Regions from separate parts of the Homo sapiens genome. Here region 1 is linked to region 2. A link means that fine-mapping ties the variant in region 2 to the expression of a gene that starts in the linked region. Tissue or cell type: lung. Region 2 holds a variant in brackets; the other region holds the start of a gene. All regions are shown on one strand. Distances are between the middles of the regions.

Evidence for each region. PIP is the estimated chance that this variant, and not a neighbour inherited with it, causes the effect. A credible set is the group of variants that fine-mapping cannot tell apart.
Region 1: LINC00399 starts here. The variant in region 2 is the best candidate, but not a certain one, in a credible set for the expression of LINC00399 in lung (GTEx, PIP 0.59).

The regions. Positions count from the first base shown.
Region 1 is chr13:109,394,435-109,404,692 of GRCh38, reverse strand. LINC00399 (long intergenic non-protein coding RNA 399) reads right to left here and starts at 3,997. Exons shown (of 2, transcript NR_126361.1): 1 at 3,885-3,997; 2 at 3,052-3,352. LOC105370359 (a long non-coding RNA gene) reads left to right here and starts at 389. Exons shown (of 3, transcript XR_001750017.3): 1 at 389-1,742; 2 at 2,152-2,662; 3 at 3,804-6,260.
Region 2 is chr13:109,726,669-109,736,926 of GRCh38, reverse strand. It overlaps LINC00676 (long intergenic non-protein coding RNA 676), which reads right to left and starts at 8,653. Exons shown (of 3, transcript NR_103846.1): 1 at 8,382-8,653; 2 at 7,735-7,894; 3 at 6,893-6,969. RefSeq lists an enhancer at 3,104-3,605. The variant C/T (reference allele first, on the strand shown) is at 4,929.

The DNA of each region.
Region 1 (10,258 bases), 330 kb after region 2:
TTGGGGCTTGGCCCCAATCCCTACTCTGAGATGGGAGCAGGCTCGTGGCACAAAGAGAGGCCAGGCAGTGGGGGAAGATACTCCTGAGACTGCAGGGACATGGGGGGTTCCTTCCTGAGGACCCCATGGGTACAGGCTGCAGAGATGCCTGGGTCCTGTGCCTGGGCTGCACCCAGGAGCTCCCTACCCCCACTGACTCTAAAGGGGCAGGGTTCCTGCTTGTTCCCAGCTCCTGCCTACTCTGTAGAGCAGGAGGCCTGGGTCTGCAGCTGCAGTTTGGGTGGCTGCAACAGCACCCAGGGAGTTCCCGCCCCAACTCAGAAGGGGCAGGGTCCACTGGCCCCATGGAGTGTGCAGCCCTAGCTGCGCCTCCCTGCTGCAACTGCTGTGATGGCCGCTGCCATCAATATGAAAAGGTGCATAACTTCATTTGTCATGAAGAAATTGCAAATTGAAATCACACTACAATCCCATTAGATACCCACCAGAAAGAGCAAAATGAACACAGGTGTCTGTAAAAATGTGGAGCAACTAGTACTCACCTGCATGGTTAGCAAGGGTGTAATGTGGTAGAATCATTTTGGAAAACTCTGAAAATCTTATTAAAGTGGAGCACTTGCATTAACTGGGCCCAGCTAGTCATGGCGGGAACAATCTCAATGCAGCATGTTCATACAGTGGAGCATGATGTAGCAAAGAGAAGGAAACATGATTGCCGCTTGCAGGAACACAGGAGAATCCTCATAAGCACAGTGTTGATGTAAATCAGCTACATGCCAAAGGGTACACACTGCACTGCACTCCACTTATATAAACTTCAGAAACAGGCAAACTATTTGTGGCATCAGAATTTATCTTTGCAGAGCCTGAAGCTTCTGGAAAGGGTGGTAATATTCTCCTCCTAGGTAGACCTGGGCACCGGCTACATCATGGGCTGACTCTGGGGCCTTGTCAAGCTGTAAAATTTTCATTTGTGCACTTTTTAAATGCATATTTCAATAAAAAGGCTTTTTCTTAAGTTTCTGGTGACAACTTCTTGGAGAAAAAATATTCCTGAATATACAAAACAGTGCGTGTTTATCATAAAAAAATGTGGAAAATAGAAGAAAGCTAAAATCATGTATAAGTCTGCCACTCTGTATTTTGATATAATCTTTTCCTGTGTTTTTCTATTTATACATTGGGTGTGTACATGTGAAACACAATGTCCACTATACAGCATATCAATTTTATAGCCTTCTTTAAAAACCACACAATGTGTCCAAAGCACTCTCTCTTGCCATTAACTATTCTTCAACACACTTCAAAAGGCTGTCTTCTCCAGACACAGCCCACTGCTGCATTTAGCTCACGGCCTCGGCCATATGTACTTTCATCTTACACCGCCTCAACGACACATCTGCTGAAGCCTGGAGCTGAAACTGAGCCATTAAAAAACAGATCAATTTAGACCTAACAGGATCTTACCAACGTATTTTGCAATGGGTGGCCCTGAACCCAGTGTTACTTAATGTTTTCATTGTTGGCCTGGGTTAGGAAACCCTACCAGCATCACCCACACAGAGAAGCAGCAGCCTTGCTTACATGCAGATGAGGGGCCATGCCCTGGTCTCAGTCTACCTGCCCGCTGGCAGTGTAGCATGACGGCAGTTGTGTGCACAAGACTCCAGGCTCAGGGGACCCAAGTCAAGGCACCAGCTCTGCAGCTGCCACATGTGTGGCTCTGGGCAAGGGCCCAAGAGGTAGGGACTCAGTTTCTCAGCAGTAAAATGAGAATAATAAGCCCCAGTGTGCAGCTCAATGTATGGGAAGTATTTACAATAGTACTGGGCAGAGTAGTCACCCTGTAATGATAGAGACCTTTGCAGAAGTAAATGGTAGGTGACTTCCTTGCTCACAAACCTTAGAGTGATCTCCTGCACATGGCTGGGGAGGAGTCTCCATGCCTGTGTGTCTAGCCCCATCTCTTACTGGTCTATAACTTCATACCTGTGCCCCGTCCACACACAACAGTTTGTAGATTCTTGAGGACAAAATGGCTCACACCTGTTTTCTACCTGGAAGCCACTTCTTCCTCATTGCGTAGCCCTGGTCTCTCATCCTCATTCATTTACCTGACTAATTTACACTCTTCTGTGTGCTTTCATCCAGATACGCTGTCTCTTCATAGAAACTTTCTCCAGTGCTCGCCTGCCCACAGACCTGGTTAGAGGCCCCGCTTTTTATGGCCCCCCGGACTTAACCACGTCACAGAAATCATCACATTGTGTTGAGCCTCCTGGGTTTCTTTGGACTGGAAGCTCCCTGAGGGCAGGGTTATCTTGTTCGTCCTTTCATCCCCAGGGCCTGGCATAAGACCTGGCGAAGAGCTGCTGCATGCTAAAGCTTTGCTAATTGAATGACTGTGTGTTATTTCTTAAATTCAATGAGAAATCACTCTACAAAGTCCAGGAGAATGAAAGTCTCAATAACCGAGCTTTCTCTCCCCTGAGCACCTACACAGGAAACTCAATTACAGTTGCAAGAGGCCTCGAAGACCTGCAGGATTTAGAAGAATCCAGGCATCTCCGGGCCCCTGGCTGGGGCTTCTGCATCTGACAATAGAGATGGCTTTGCTCAGGGGAAGAATACTTTGGGCTCTGACTCACTCCATGAGCACTGGGTAAGCAACGTCCACCTTGGTGGCTCTTGCTATAATTTGTCTGTGTGTTCAGACCCAGTCCTTCCCTCCCAAACTGCTGACAGCGGTTTTCTTCGGTTATGCTAATATCCCCCACTATGTTCAAGTTGAGTTTTGTAGACATGCCAGCTGCTCTGTTTCTTTACGTTGATTTTCTCGCTCTGCCCTAATATGTGCTCATTTCATAGGTGGACTCTCTACAATCAATCTTTTAATTTTTTAAATGTTCAAGTTATTGAGGGACACCTTCCTGAGAGGCGTCCATTGTAAACGACAGCTTATCACTGATATTATCATATGAAAGCTATTGTTGTAGGACTTTCTCTTTAGGGCCCATGTCACATGGCCATGAGAGATTAGGGTCACAGAGATTTTGAAGGGTGAGAAAAATGGAATTTATCGGGCCAAAAGGAAAAAAAGGGAAACAGGGACTCTCAGCAAAGCAACAGTCCTGCTAGCGGGTTTTCCCGCCTCAGCGATTGAATCTCAGGTACTATCCAGGATCAGGAGAGGCCAGGCTCCTCCCCTCTGCAAAGCGCGTGAACTTCCGTGGCTCCACCCCATTCTCCCAGGGCGCAGGCCGGTTGGGGTTTCCCCAGGGACCCTTTATACTTGGCTGTTCATTGTGGTGATATGGTTCCAAGCCTGAAGAACTTGCAATCTGATTAAGATCTGAATGCATGAATTAAAAAAAAAAAATTATGGTAATTTAACATAAGAAATAGTCTTGAAGCAAGGGGTTATCACAAGGGTGCTTATGACAGCGTTAGTTGTATTAGTAAAATATAGAAATAACCAATACTAGAATTTTTAAATTACAGTGAATTCTTTTGCTGCTACTGAAATTATGCTTTCAAAGATAATTAATGTTTCTAAGGATAGTTCATTTAGAGGGGAAAGTACAGAGCTCAAATTCCAAATAAAAGGTCATGATTTGAAATTACCGTGGGAGAAAATGATATAGATATGGGAAAAGAAAGTGTTTTCAAGGCAGCAAAGCTTTGTTTAAAGCTAATCACAGATAACTTCTACTTTTATTATCCTTATCAGGATTTATCTTGTATCATGAATAGTGAGCATTTGCCTCGCCTATTATATCTAATTCTGAGTTCTGTGGCTTAAGGTAGCGTCAAGCATTTGGAATGGATTCAGATAAGGGCCAGCCCGGCTGGTGCCAGAGCAGGGCACAGAGCCTGTTTCCTACCGATCCTGGATCCTGACAGTGCGACTCCGCGTGCGGCTTCTCCCTGCCATGGTCTTAGATTTCAACCTGTCTCAGTGTATGAAGAGCGAGAAGGATTCATTCCAGGTCTGTTTGTGAATCTTTTCTAAGAAGTGTTTCCTAGGCAACTTCTAGAAGGCATTAAACAATAATGGGTTTTAGTTTTTCAAGAAACCTTGGAGATCTAGGACATCCTGTCTTTACCAACGGAGACACCAAGGCACAGAGATTCCAGGGGATGTGACGGCAGAACCATTTCCTTGTTCTTGTCGGCTCGCCTTCTGCTGGCTGTGGCTTCCTTTGTGTCTAGCATGTAACCCTGCATGCCTATTCAGGATTAAGGGAGGCCAAGTTCTGCCTCCTGGCTGGTGAATGCCGGGAGGCCCAGGAGGAAGCAGTAGCTGGTGAGGGAAACGCGCAGCAGATTGACAGCTGGGCGGAGCAGGGCAGGCCTCCCGGAGCACATTTCTGCACAGAGAACTAGGAAGCAATAAAACAAACTTCACGGAAAGTGGATCTTATCCTAAAAATAGCAGGTTTAATGCTGACATGCCTACCTTTTGATGACTTACGTTTGTTTTTGCATAATTATGATTACTAATTTGAAAGCAGCTAGGAAATAATCTAATAAGGATGAAAATAATAAAAATACATTTAGAAACGTAAATTGACATAATATTATCATGTTTTAGTCAATTCAAATGAATATTTCCAAGGAATTCAGTTTATAATTACATTTAGGAAATAATAGTGCCCTAAACTTTTTTTTTTCTTTTCTTTTCTTTTTTTTTTTTTTTGAGACTGGGTCTCACTTTGTCACCCAGGCTGGGATGGAATGACATAATCATAGCTCACTGCAGCCTCGAATTCTGGGCCTCAAGAGAAACCCTCACCTCAGTCCCCTACCCCCAGTCCCCTACCCTCACTCCCCTACCTCCAGTCCCCTACCCCCAAGTAGCCAGACTACAGGCGCAGGCCATCACACCCTTCAATTTTTTTTTTTTTTTTTTTTTGAGACAGCGTTTTGCCATGTTCCCAGGCTGGTCTAAAACTCCTGAGATCAAGCAATTTGCCAGCCTCAGCCTCCCAAAATGCTGGAATTACAGGAGTGAGCTACCATATCTGGTACCCTAAACGTTTTTGATTGGCTAGGGGAGATAATACTGAGAGGTGAAGCCAGCTGGACTTCCTGGGTCGAGTAGGGGCTTGGAGAACTTTTCTGTCTAGCTAAAGGATTGTTAACACACCAATCAGCACTCTGTAAAATGGACCAATCAGCAGGACGTGGGTAGGGCCAAATAAGGGAATAAAAGCTGGCCACCAGAGCCACCAATGACCACCCGCGGGGGTCCCCTTCCACGCTGTGGAAGCTTTGTTCTTTCGCTCTTCACAATAAATCTTGCTGCTCTTTGGCTCTGCACCACCCTTAAGAGCTTTAACACTCACTGCGAAGGTCTGTGGCTTCACTCCTGAAGTCAGCAAGACCACGAACCCACCAGAAGGAAGAAACTCTGGACACATTTGAACATCTAAAGGAACAAACTCCAGACACACCATCTTTAAGAACTGTAACACTCACCACGAGGGTCTGCGGCTTCATTCTTGAAGTCAGCGAGACCAAGAACCCACTGGAAGGAACCAATTCAGGACACAATATGATGAATGGTTTTTAGTTGTTGTTGTTGTTGTTTAGTGATTTTTAAAATTATTATTGTAGTTTAAATTCTGGTATATATGTGCAGAACGTGCAGGTTTGATACATAGGTATACACATGCCATGGTGGTTTGCTGCACCTATCAACCTGTCATCTACATTAGGTATTTCTCCTAATGCTATTCTTCCCCTCAACAGGCCCAGGTGTGTGATGTCCCCCTCCCTGTTTCTATGTGTTCTCATTGTTCAACTCCCATTTATGAGTGAGAACATGCAGTGTTTGGTTTTCTGTTCCTGTGTTAGTTTGCTGAGAATGATGGTTTCCAGCTTCATCCATGTCCCTGCAAAAGACATAAACTCATCCGTTTTTATGGCTGCATAGTATTCCATGGTGTTAAAGACTTAAACATAAGACCTCAAACCACCATAAAAAGCCTAGAAGAAAACCTAGGCAATATCTTTCAGGACATAGGCATGGGCAAAGACTTCATGATTAAAACACCAAAAGTAATGGCAACAAAAGCCAAAATTGACAAGTGGGATCTAATTAAACTAAAGAGCTTCTGCACAGCAAAAAGAACTATTGTCAGAGTGAACAGGCAACCTACAGAATGGGAGAAAATTTGTGCAATCTATCCATCTAACAAACGGCTAATATCCAGAATCTACAAGGAACTTAAACAAATTTACAAGAAAAAAAAAAACAACCCCATCAAAAAGTGGACAAAGGATATGAACAGACACTTCTCTAAAGAAGACATTTATGTGGCCAACAAACATGAAAAAAAGCTCTTCATCACTGGTCGTTAGAGAAATGCAAATCAAAACCACAATGAGATACCGTCTCACCAGTTAGAATGGCGCAAGTTAGAATGGCGATCATTAAAAAGTCAGGAAACAACAGATGCTGGAAAGGATGTGGAGAAATAGGAACGTGTTGATGCTGTTGGTGGGAATGTAAATTAGTTCAACCATTGTGGAAGACAGTATGATGATTGTTAAGACAATTCTACTAAAGGAAAACTATCTCTGCTTTGCATTAAATATCTTGCATTTGCTGTTTTTCCTTAAGATTTCTTAAATCAAATTGTACATCATAAAACAGGTCTAATAATCGGCTGGGCGGGGTGGCTCACACTGTAATCCCAGCAGCACTTTGGGAGGCCAAGGTGGGCTGATCAGCTGAGGTCAGACCAGCTTAGCCAACATGGTGAAACCGCACCTCTACTAAAAACACAAAAAAATTAGCCAGTGTGGTGGTGCATGCCTGTAATCCCAGCTACTCAGGAGACTGAGGCAGGAGAATAGCTTGAACCCAGGAGGCAGAGGTTGCAGTGAGCTGAGATTGCACCATTGCACTCCAGCCTGGGCAACAGACTGAGACTCAGTCTAAAAAACAAAACAGAACAAAACAAAAAAACCAGGCATAATAGTACTCTCCCACATTCCCCGTATTCTTTGACTGCTGACAAAATAAAACACACTGTCAGTTCTCTGACCTTCAAAAGTCAGGTGTGGATATTGGGTGAAATTGAATGTCACGTTACTTGTGGGAGAAAATTGCTATTTTCTTAAAGGAAACTTGGCCAGGGCCTCTGTCCTGTCCTTCCCTGACTCAGCTGATTGCAGCTTGCAGGACTCCTCCCCGCAGTGCTTCTACCAGGACAATGACACCAGGTACCTTGTTGCTCACTTCCCTTTCTCCACACTTGTTTTTGAGGAGTTCAGGTGACCAATATTTCCCAGGGCTCCAAGAAAGCAATACAGGTGTAACTTCACCTTTGCCATTGCCGTGAAAGGACTATGTGCTCACCTGCATATCAAGTGGAATGGGCCCATATGGATTTAGCTTAGCCCATCCAGATTTTTAAAAATACCTGTTAAGTGTTTGCCTTTCTTCTATTTTCATATTTAAGGAGCCGAAGAATCAATAGAGCTGAGGGCAGCAAGATGGAATTATAACTCATCCACCCCCCTTTACTGTACTCAAGATATAATATTCCTTGACCCCTCTACATCTGCTTTGCAATTTTCTATCCTTGATCATCAATGCCTTCTTTAGGTGGCTTCCCCTCCTGTCACTCTATGATCCTTATCTTTGTAAACTGTCTGTTGTTTTATAACTGAGTTGACTTTAGTGAATAATCAGAAAACAAGTTGCCGGTTAATATATTCTTAGGATAAACTGAAGATTATGCCTGGAGAGGCTTGTCCATGGTGCAGCTGAGACGTCTCCTATCTTCTTTTCTGTCTTTTTTTTTTTTTTTTTTTTTTTTGAGACAGAGTCTCGCTGTGTCACCCAGGCTGGAGTGCAGTGGTGCGATCTTGGCTCACTGCAAGCTCTGCCTCCCAGGTTCACGCCATTCTCCTGCCTCAGCCTGCCGAATAGCTGGGACTATAGGCACCTGCCACCACGCCCGGCTAATTTTTTGTATTTTTTTTTAGTAGAGACGGGGTTTCACCGTGTTAGCCAGGATGGTCTCGATCTCCTGACCTCATGATACACCCGCCTCGGCCTCCCAAAGTGCTGGGATTACATACAGGCCTGAGCCACCGCGCCTGGCCGTCTCCTATCTTCTTGTCTGTGTATATGTGTGAATCCTTCACGCCGAGACAGAGTTGTATGAATGAATCATTCTGAACCTGATGTTCTTTCTACAATGTGGATACATGCAATTGTTTGTTTGCCCTCCTGCCCTGTGGTCACAGCAGTGGCCTATTTACAGGGATGTTTACTGTTCTAGAGACTGGCTGTTTCCTACGCTTATGTTTTTACTCCATCTTTTTCAGTGAGCTTAAGTTTGTTTACTACATACTAGTATGTTCCTCTACTAGTCATTGTGACAGTGTTTCAAAATGTTTCAGCATATCCTTGTGTCTTTCTTTTCTCTGTTCATCTTGTTTCTAATTTCCTTTCCAGAACTTTCCATGGTGTCCAGGACAATCCTGGTTTTCTATCTGTTGTCCTGTTGTCATTATCAATAGTAGCCAATTTCACCCTGAAAGTAACTGTGTTGAAATGAAAATTATATTTGCCTATTTACCCATAAAGTAATCACTGCTCTAAGATTTTATACCCACTTTCTGAGAAACTTTATTCCAGGAAAAGACTAATTAGATAGGTCAATTAATGTAGATCAACTTGCTCCTGTCATGTTTGAAATCATAAAACAAGGCCTAAGTCCATTTGGGTGCTATAACAAAATCCCATAAGCTGGGTCGTTTCTAACAACAGAAATTGGTTCCTCACAGCTCTGGAGTTTGGGAAATCCAGGAGAAAATCACCGACAGACTCGGTGTCTGGTGAGAGCCCGCTTCCTGGTTCCTAGAGGGCCGTCTTCTCACTGTGTCTTTACATGGTGGAAGAGGCAAGTGAGCTCTGTTGGGCCTCTTTCATAAGCTCATGAACCCCATTCATGAGACCTCCTCCCTCATGGCCTAATCACTTTCCACAGGTGCCACCTCCAAGTAACATCACCTGGAGGATGGCATTTCAACATAGGAGATTTCATGACGTGTTTGCTTCTGCAGCACGTGTTCTAAAATTGGAATGAGATTTCATTAGCCCTCCTCCCTCATGACCTAATCACCCCCCACAGGCTCCACCTCCATATAACATCACCTTGGGGATGGGGTTTGGGGCAGGGGAACATGAGCATTGAGCCCATTGCAGGGACAGACCCTAAGCATAACACCAACCAGTAAGTGAGTCCTAACAGGATGAATCTAAATGACAGATAGGGTGGGAGAGACATTTAAAAGTCCTCTAAACTTTTCTGGTCATTGGTATTTACTCAGAATCTGTGGCTAATTCTGCACTTGCCAGCAATGATCACTGTCCTTGTTATTGTCCTCATTTGTCCAGCACATATTGCACACGTTTGCACATGCTGCGTACCAAGCACGGTGCTGTGTGCAAGGCTGCTCAGCGAGCACATCAGATAAACTCCTGCCACATTAGTGCTTACCCTGGGGAGGTGGGGGGAGGCAGACTCACAAAAGGGAAAATTAAATAAACAAAAAACCAGATAATGTCGAGTCTTGTTGAAAGAAAAGTGGTGTGACAAAACCTGAGTTTTTACAAAGTAACTTAGAATGAAAGACCAGGAACATCCTCTCAAAGGAGGAGACATTTGTGAAAAGAAGTAAATGATAAAGTCAGTCCCAGTCATGCAGGATGTATGGAAAAGACATCTCAGGTAGAGGAACGATGAAAGCAAGCATCCTAAGGAGAAGGAAACATGGCACGTTCGAGGCACGGAAAGAAGGGAAGTGAGTATGGTTGTCATGGGAAAGAGGACAAGTCAATATGCAAAGTTCAGAGAGATGGACAGGGCCAGGTCATCAGGAGTGGTGGACAGGGCCAAGGGTTCAGACAGGCCTGTAAGTGGGGTGTGCGGCACGGGATACTGACATGCAGTGATGTACATTAAAAAATATCCTCGCTATGATGTGCAGAAAACAGCAAGAAAGGCAAATAAAAAAGCAAAAAGCAGAGCCCACTTAGATGTCTCTTACACGTGCCAAGAGTAAAATGGTAGAGGCTGTGGCTGGGTAGATACAGCAGAGAGGGAGAAGGGAAAGTCTCTGGGATGTCTTTTGGATGTAGTCATTATGACTTGCCAATGAACTGGGTGGAGAAGGTCAGTAAAGACACTGAATTGAGGATCTGTCTGAAGAACTGGCTGGAACACTTGGGGAG
Region 2 (10,258 bases):
CTCTGGAGATCCCTTACTGCCTTTCTCTCTTTGCAGCCACCTCTCAAATCCCAGAAGCCAGGATGTTACATGTGCAATTTCCCTGCAAGGTGCCTTAATTTGGTTTTCCTAATGGCATCTTAAATTCAACATGTCCAGAATGGATCAGTGTCTTCCCTGAAAACCAATTCCATCTCTTGACCATTTTCTCTAAGTCACTGGGGCTAAAATTTAGAGGGCCACTTATTTCTGACAGCTCCCTCCCCACATCCTTGGGCCCTCCCCACATCCAATCAACTCCTGTCTGAAATGTGACTTGTAACCGCCCCTCCCTTGCCATTCCCACTGATAGCACTTTACTTATTACTTGTTACTTCTTGCTGGGCCACAGAAACGGCTGGACTCACCTTCCTGTCTCTGGTTTATGTGCCATTCAGAGAAACTCTGAGACATCACCTGACGAATCATTGTGATGCTCAGCTTGCAGGATCCCACTTCTCTACTCAGGGACCCCCAGTACTTCCCCGTTCTTACTGAATAAAGTCCAAATTCTACACTTCAGTGTTCTAGCCCCTTATCACGTGGGCGGTGAAACCTTTGGCTGCATCTCGGACAGCTCATGGGCAGGTCCCCTCTGCTGTCACACCCAGAGTTAGGAAGGCCTCAAATTCACTCCCTGCACACTTGCTTCCCTGTCTCCTGGCAAACTGCTTTCTCTTTGTTCTTAACTCTGCCTGGGAAAATCTTCCCCATCCTTGAAGGCCTTTCTCCACTGTTACCCCTGCATGAAGACCTCACTGACCCCCCAAAAAGTGTTTGACCCAGAACACTTTGGCTTTTGCTTATAATATTTACCTCTGACTTGGGGCACGTGTTTCATTCTCTATTTGAGTGTATGCTCTTTGAGGGTAGGAATGAGTGACTGTCTGGCCTACCCTGAATCTTGACTCTCATGAATCAAGTTTTATAAATTGACTCAAAATAATAAGTTAGAGTTACAAGAATAAGGTGGTAACGGTGGTTTTATAATTCAGAAATAATCCTTTTAAAAATGTAAAAAATACTCTAAAAAAGTCAGCTGTAGAGGTTTGCTCGTGGTTGCCAAGGAGCAAAGACTTTCAGAGAGCTTAACTCCAGTGGGTTTGAGCCTCTTTCTGATTAAAGCATCAGTGCCAATAGCATTGGATCCCTCCAAGAATGTGGTGTTTGGGACTTTACCATCATTTGTTTGTGGAATTGTGTGTAGGTCTGAAAATTCAGGCCTGTGGGGAACTAACTTTGAATTTTGATAAATGACTTTCGTGGTCAGTTCGGGTCACCCAGCTACACTCTGTTGTGTATATTTTGGCACATCTGCTCTTGAAAGATATGATTATATGTAACTCCAACAAATATATCAAAAGTGTGTTTTAATTTTTTTGCCTTTTAGATTTAATGAACCAGTTCCTAAGAGAACCCTACATGTTTCTTTAGAAGACCTAACCAATTGATACTGCATTATGACAAACCCTCTACCAGAATTTCCTCATTCATTCAAAATTATGTTTAAACCCATAATGTCCACATTCTTTTTTTTTTTAACATGAGGAGACATCATAAGAAATGAAACAACAGTTTGAGTCAGGGCAACAGAGTCCAAGTTTCCTTCCAAGAGGCCAAGTTGTTTTAGCAGAAAAGGACATTGGCGCCAAAACCCACACTAGGTCCACCGGCAGCAAACACAGAATGGTGCCCTCACTCTAGGAAGCTGGCTGTTCCATATTTTTATACTAGATTTAAGGTTCAAAATTTCATGTTGGTGTTCATAAATGCAAACACACAAGCCAGCAAAGAAAAAGGAGAGTTATTTAGTTTATATTTTCTTCTCCCATCCTTTCTCTCTCTCTTTCTATGCAAATGTTTCAATCACATAGGTTTGACCAAATAGCTGCGTCTTACACCATTCTCCTCTATGTAAAGATGTAAAGCAACTCTGCACTTTTTTTTTTTTTTTTTTTAAGACAAAGTCTCACTCTGTGGCTCAGGTTGGAGTGCAGTGGCACAATTTCGGCTCACTGAAACCTCTGCGTCTTGGGTTCAAGCGATTCTCCTGCCTCAGCCTCCCGAGTAGCTGGGATTACAGGTGTGTGCCACCACACCTAATTTTTGTATTTTTATTAGTCAGGGGGTTCACCATGTTGGCCAGGCTGGTCTTGAACTCCTGACCTCAGGTGACCTGCCTGCCTCAGCCTCCCAAAGTGCTGGGATTACAGGCCTGAGCCACCCCGACCGGCCATGCACTTGGTTTTGAGAGCAGCACAGTGGCGGTCTGTTCTCCCTGCCCGCCTGCTCCAGGGAGAGGAGTTGCTTGCTCCCTTACAGCCCTCACCTCCCATGGGACCCTGCAGGTGCTGAGGGCTCAGGCGCAGCTGCTGCCAGTCGTCACAGCCATCTCATCCATTCCAGAGTTGTAAATAGGCTGATGATTCCGTTTTTTGTTCCCAGAGCTGTATATCCAGTGGCCTCCTGGAGTCACCTACTGGGATGGCTGATGATCTCCAAAAGTGTCAACACTGTCCCAAACTGAGCACCCCGCCCCACAGCAGAGCCCTGCCCCAGCGCCTCCTGTTCTGGCTCTATGGCAATTCCCTCTTCCCAGCGGCCGCAGCAAGAGTCGGGTCCCCTGCGCCCTGGCCCAGCCCCTGCCGCCCCTGCCTGGCCTGGATGTTGGCAATGGTGGTTTCCCAGTGCCCTGCCCCCACCCTTTCCCTTACCCCTTTCAGCCCGTTCCTTACTAAGAAGCCACCGCAATGTTGGTGAGAAAGTGGGTCAGATGTGCCACAGCCTTAGGCCGCTTCAAAGTCTAACCACGTCCTGAAAACCTTCTGGTTTGGTTCCCAGCTCCTGCTCCGATCTCGCCTCTATTTGAAAACCACCATCCCCACATCGGCCACCTCTCAGTCACCCCATCCTCTGGCTCACCCCCGAGACCGCTGCCAATTGGGGGGACCCGTCCATAGCACGGATGGCGCTGCTTCCGGCACCTGCGCCGCCCGAGGGTCTCCTGGCCATGGCCTGGGGGTGCCACGCAGCCGTGGCCACCGCATCCTCCCTCAGTGCTCCCCACGGCTCTCAATGCGCTCCCCAAGTGCTGACCACGCGCGCCCCCACGGCTCCCCGACAGCTCCGCCACGCCCTCCCCACGGCTCTCCACGCTCTCCCCAAGTCCCCAACGGCTCCCCCAAGCGCTGCCCACGCTCCCCCACGACTCCCCCACTCCCTCTCCACGTGCTCCCCACGTGCTCAGAGGAGCCTGGACAGGTGGATCCGGGTTGCCCCGGGGACTCATTCAGGGGTGAGCACACCTTGTACTTTTCCCTCGTTGTTTCCCTCCTTCCCCTCCTGGAAATGCCTCCTGCGGAAACCACTCAAACCCTTGTCTCAGGACCATGGCAGGGGTCTCCTTTCTTACAGGGCTGGCTGCTTCCTCAGTCAAGGCTTCTTTGGCTATTTACTTATCTAAAATGAAAACTCCAGCCATATTCTCAGTATTTCATAGCCTCCTTTTCCATGTTGTTCTCATTCTTTAAAGTACTACCTATTTCACCTACTTGTAGTGTTCTCTGTATCCCTCTCCTACCAGAATGTGACATGGACGGTAATGTCAGCCTTCTTCACTCCTGGTTAAGCAGACTTGAGAAAAGGGCCTGGCATACAGTAGGCATTCAGTAAATGCTTTGTGACTCTGTCGAGAGGTGACAGCATGCTGGCAGCCCTCACAGGCCTTGCTCGCTCTCGGTGCCTCCTCGGCCTCGGCGCCCATTCTGGCCGCGCTTGAGGAGCGCTTCAGCCCGCCGCTGCACTGTGGGAGCCCCCTCCTGGGATGGCTGAGGCAGGAGCCGGCTCCCTCAGCCTGCGGGGAGGTGTGGAGGGAGAGGCACGGGCGGGAACCAGGGCTGGGAGCGGCGCTTGCGGGCCAGCTAGAGTTCCGGGTGGGCGTGGGCTTGGCGGGCCCCGCACTCGGAGCGGCCGGGCAGTGAGGGGCTTAGCACCCGAGCCAGCAGCTGCGGAGGGTGCGCCAGGTCCCCCAGCAGTGCCGGCCCACCGGCGCTGCGCTCGATTTCTCGCCGGGCCTTAGCTGCCTCCCCGCAGGGCAGGGCTCGGGACCTGCAGCCCGCCATGCCTGAGCCTGCCCCCGCACCCCCGCCGTGGGCTCCTGGCGGCCCGAGCCTCCCCTATGAGCGCCGCCCCCTGCTCCACGGCGCCCAGTCCCAACAACCGCCCAAGGGCTGAGGAGTGCGGGCGCACAGCGTGGGACTGGCAGACAGCTCCACCTGCAGCCCCCGGGCGGGATCCACTGAGTGAAGCCAGCTGGGCTCTTGAGTCTGGTGGGGACTTGGAGAATCTTTATGTCTAGCTAAGGGATTGTAAATACACCAATCAGCACTCTGTATCTAGCTCAAGGTTTGTAAATGCACCAATCAGCACTCTGTGTCTAGCTGATCTGGTGGGGACTTGGAGAACATTTATGTCTAGCTAAGGGATTGTGAATACACCAATCAGCACTCTGTATCTAGCTCAAGGTTTGTAAATGCACCAATCAGCACCCTGTGTCTAGCTAATCTGGTGGGGACTTGGAGAACCTTTGTGTCTAGCTCAGGATTGTAAACGCACCAATCAGCACCCTGTCAAAACAGACCAATCAGCTCTCTGTAAAACAGACCAATCAGCTCTCTGTAAAATGGGCCAATCAGCAGGATGTGGGTGGAGCCAGATAAGGGAAGAAAAGCAGGCTCTCCGAGCTAGCGGTGGCAATCTGTTAGGGTTTGTGTCTGTCGTGTGGAAGCTTTGTTCATTCGTCTTTTGCAATAAATCTTGCTACTGCTCAGTCTTTGGGTCCACACTGCTTTTATGAGCTGTAGCAGTCACCACGAAGGTCTGCAGCTGCACTCCTGAGGCTAGCGAGACCA[C/T]GAACCCACCGGGAGGAGCGAACGACTCCAGACGCGCTGACTTAAGAGCTGTAACAGCTTACCGCTAAGGTCTGCAGCTTCACTCCTGAGCCAGAGAGACCAGGAACCCACCTAGAAGGAACAAACTCCGGACATGCCGCCTTTAAGAGCTGTAACACTCACCGCCAGGGTCCGCAGCTGCATTCTTGAAGTCAGTGAGACCAAGAACCCACCAATTCCAGACACACTGTCATCAAAAAGTGGGATATCTTTTTAAACAGAGATAACATTGCAGAATCTTGGAGTTGGAAATAGACCTCAGCTGGGGTTTAGTCCTGTTTTCTCCTCAGAGCAGAAGTCCTGGGATGCCGTTCTGGACTGATTGTCAGTTTTTTCTCCTGTCCTTGAGCTATTCTAATGCCAGACATCTGTGGCTTTACACAGCCAGGCTTTCAGTTAGAGAACTTGGTTAGCTCAGGTCAACAAATGCTGCTCTGAGAACACTGACTCCCATGTGGGGAGACTCTGCACCTGGAGCTCCGGGAGAGCCGGCTCAGGCCTCTTCCTGCTATCCAGGGAACTGCAGTGGCGTTGGAGGGCCTTGCTGGGGCTGGGGCTGGGGAGAAGGGATTCCAACCCTACTGATAATTCGTTTGGAAACACCGGGCTGTGGATTTCAGAAGTTCTTGGGCAGCCTGATTACCACTGGCAGTGAGCCGGGGACGAAGCCGAAGCTATGAGTGACAGACGGAAAGAACTGGGGGCTTTGGTGAACCAGAGAACACTTAGCTCCTCCAGCCCTGAAGCAGGCGTCACCGCAGGGCTTATGGTCCTAAGAGCCACTTAGTTTCCTTATTCATTAAACTAGTTTAATTTGGGTTTTCTGCATCCTGGAGGACACCAAGTCGGTGTGCGGAGGGACCCTGTAGACACGTGTGCAAAGAATAAGCCGACGATCATGGAATTTCTGATGACGCCACTGACACGTGGGATGGAGGCCTCCTTCCCAGGGCACCCCTACACTCATGACAATGAATCCTGGCTCTTATTCACCCCTTTGGATTTCACAAGCAAGTAGTAAGTAGAAAAATAGTTTCATTTTATTTTCAGTACATCAACTGAATGTGCTAATACTTGTATCCACTTCCACATGTAAGAACTCTGTTACATAAATTTGAGAATAATCTGCTCTTTGCTATTTTGACTTTATTTTCACTGCAGATTACCAATTGTCCCTACAATTTGCGTTTTATAGTTTACATCATCGTACACTTGATTTTATAGGGAACAAAAGGTTCTCAATAATTACAAAGAAATGTGTTGATTTAACATACTCCAAGAATCTCATGAACACAGTCCAAATAATAATTCAAAATTGAAGGTGGTATATTGGGCTAAAGTGTCCAGCAACTAAGGAACTAACGATGACTTAACTTTTATTGTCTTGGGTCACAGACACATAAAATTGACTAGAAAATTAATCCTGGTATATCTTTTGTATCTTCAACATCACTATGAATATTCTACTTTTTAAGTGACATGGAAACATTCAAATTGAGACATGGAGTCTGAGAGTGACACGGGCTGCTGGAGTCCACACCCTGTTGACCAAATCCACACCTTTGGTGGCCAGCTCCGTTTTGGTTTTCAAACTTTAAGCTCCATTGTATCCCCAAAATATATGAATGAAAACAAATCAATTTATTTATTTTCATTTTAGTTATTTATTTGAGACAGGGTCTTGCTCTGTCGCCCAGGCTGGAGTGGGTTGTTGTGATCTCGCCTCATTGCAACTTCCATCTCCTGGGTTTAAGCGATTCTCCTGCCTCAGCCTCCTGAGTAGCTGAGATTACAGGCACGGACCACCTTGCCCGGCTAATTTTTGTACTTTAGTAGAGAGAGGGTTTTGCAATGTTGGCCAGGCTTGTCTGGAACTCCTGACCTCAAGTAATCCTCCTGCCTCAGCCTCCTAAAGTGCTGGGATTACAGGCGTGAGCCACCACACCCGGCCCAAGTCAACGTATTTATAATATGTGAATTGTTTGCACACCTATTTCAAGCACTGGAAAAGAAAAAAAAGAAAAGAAACAGGTCCATGAATGAGGTAAGCAGAGTTGGACCCAAATACTTCAATGCCTTCTCAACAATTTCTTCTAAATGGCTTCCCGAAATTAGCTCTGCACGACCTATCTTTCTTGGGGGGTGGGGAAGCGATTACTTTTTAAAAGCCACATTAAAGTGTGTGTTCTATATCACGATGGCAGTTAAGGGAGGGGAGGCGTCTACAGCTGACCTGGGGAAGTTTTAATCATTGAACTATGCACAAGTGGGGCCGGGGCGGGAAGCGGCAGGAAAATGAGGCACCTTCTGCAGAACCTAGCCAGCCTGCAGGCGTTCCTGATCTGAGGAAAACACTTTAATTAATATGTAAAACAGCAGTGGGGAGAAAAGCAAGGTTAATTTCCAAACCACATCACTACCAGCGGTATTTGGGTTATGAAACCTTGGGAAACTTCTAGGAGATCCTGTTTGAAGGCACAGAGGTGCTTTTGTGTGTGAGTAGCTTCTGAGATGCTCAAAAGCTCTTTTATCTGCCCCCTGCAGTGGTATTGCTCTTTCTGTGTTTAAAAACACTGCCTTTGACTGGCAGGCTTTTGTTTTTAATTTGCAGTGCATCCTCCATTTTTGTTTGGAACTTGCCTGAAAGCAGCGTTTAGGGGAGAGAGAGCTGTTTGATTTCCTTTGTTGCGGCTTTCTTAGCTGCTGGCTACCTTTGGAATGTGTGACACAGGCGTCTCTCCTGGTTAGGAAAATGTTCTGTACTTGCCTGGGGTGAGACTGTAGCTCATTTCCTGGGTTGAGATCTAAAATCCTGAGCAGAGTTAAGTGTATCAAATAGTGGCTGTGCCAAGGATCAGTGTCTGGTGGAGACAGCGGATTTTCCAAGGTCATGGAAGTGAAGAAACAGCTGACAAGTCTTTCCCTAGCTTGAGCAGAAACAGCTCCATTCAGTGCGTGAACAATTAACTCAATTAGAGAATGTGCAGCTTTCTAAAGACGCGTCCACTGTGAGTGCGTGTGCCTGCGTTTCCTGCCTCCCTCTCCTCACAGACACCTCAAAAGCAACATATCTGAAAAGTCCTCTTAGCTACCCTGTCTAGGAGAAGTCAGAGGCTTGAGGACGATACTGTGTTCCTCCCACCGCTTGGTATCCCACCAACACCCGCTCCTGGCCATTAGACACTCAAGCATCTTTCAAGTAGGGAGATGACTTTTTTGGGGGTCATAGACTCCTTTGAGAATTAAAGTTTACCCCAGGAGGAAAATAATATCTGCACATACCAAGATCAGCACACACTTTCAGGGGTTTTCCCATACCTACTTTAAGCCCAATTAGGATTTCTGTACTAAAATCAATCCCTCTGTCCCATTTCCTCTGCCACAGCCGTATGTGCAGCCCCACGCGTTACTTACATCTAGCCTGGAGGGTTAACTTTGACTTCCCAGCTTCTGGCACAATTTCCTTCTCCATCGCAGGCCGGAGTGGTCTCCACATTCCCCAAGGGCTCACCCATGACCTTTAGAAGAAAGTCCAAGCACTAGCTTGGCACTCAAAGTCTAAGGAATTCTTCATCCCGTGCTCCAGGCACATGAAATGCCTGTGTTTTCGTGAGCAAACGTTTCTCCTGTGGCCTTCCAGTTTCTCCCAGTACATCCTGTGGACTATCGTGGAGGATTTGCATTGCAGTGTGTGCCTCTCAGGTCCATGTTGGAGTGCCCTGCGTCCGCCTCCCTCTGCGCGGTCCACTCAGCTGGGTGGCGTCACTGGTGACTGGGCTTCTGCCTCCTTCCTTTCACTGGGAGACTCCTCAGTCAGAGTCTGGGTCTTCATCTCTAAACCCCCCGGGGCAGCAGCAGTCCCTGATTTTGACATAGGAGATTAGGACTGCAGCTTGTAGGGAGGTGGTGATCCACGGAGGGGCTTCTTCTGAAGCTGACTTTTGTAGCAAGCACAGTGTTCCAACTTACATTAAATACACGTGGGGTGGCTTGATATGACGATGGAGAAGATCCCACATTGCACAAGGTGGGAGCTAAAGCCCCAGTCCTCGCCCTGCAGCTGTAGTACACAGCTTCACAGTTACGTGCACTGCCACATGTATGTAATAATCTGGTATGTAACAGGTGCTTGTTGAATATTTGTTGGATGAATAGATGAGTGACCCTAGAAAAACACAATGCAGACCTATGGGTAGAAGAAGAAAAGAACCTGGAGTTTCCTGGAAGTTAGGGGTTCCAGCCCACCTCTGTCCACAGCCATGTGATCTCACACACACACACACACACACACACACCTACACCTGCACCCATGAGCCTCCCCACTTTGTCAGGGATCATGATTCACAGGTTATGCTGCATCTCCTAACTTTTCCATTTCTTTGCACTCACTTTTTCACTCCATTTATAGGCACACAGCAACCCCGTCTCCTGCAATGACCCCTGCTCCAGGCCTCACATAAACCACCTGCTATCTGTACTCGGCAGCCCTGGTCCGAAGGCAAACACAGTCCTGGTTGCCCCACCTGACGCAATTGCTCCTAGCATTTCTTATTCACTCTCCAGCTTTCGCTTGGCTCTACCCTCTGCTGAAACAGCTAACCCTCTTGCCTGGCAGAGTCAAGGAAATTTTTGAGTCCAGGGCCTTCAACCTTGTGTCTTCAGGAGCCTCTGCAAAGCTGGGTGCCATGTAGGTGGGCTCTCTCCTTCCACTCCCTGTCGTCTTCATTCTCTAGCCCTCCGTATCACCCTTCTGGGCAATTCTTTCTCAGCTCACTTAGCGAATGTAAGGAAGTGTTTCATTTTCAGTCTTTCAAATCTTTTTTCAAATACTTCGTATTCAATCATTTCCTCTTCTTGGATAGAGTTTTGTGTTTTAAGTACAGTGTTATCCAATGGCTAGATCCGCACCTCTAGCCAGCTCACCACTCTGTGGCCCAGACTCTCTTTGCCAACTGTTTAACTCTCGTGTATAAATGACAGGCAGCTGCATATGTCCATATGTCCAGCTGTCTGTTCTGCAGTGGGTCACTTATGGGATCAGATTGTACATCTGCCTGTTTCACTTCAAATTGCCTCTTCTTTGCAAGCATCCAGGGGTGTCTTGCCTCACATACAAACAAACACAGAACAAAACTAAAAACCTCAAAGGAATTTCTGTGTTGAAGAGGTTTTAATGGTAAAATAATTAAGTTTACTTGCGATTAAAAAATAATTGTAAATTTTTATTAAAAAACCCTCAAAACTATCTTGCTGTATTTTTCTTTTATTATAATCAAAGTTTAGGCAAGAAG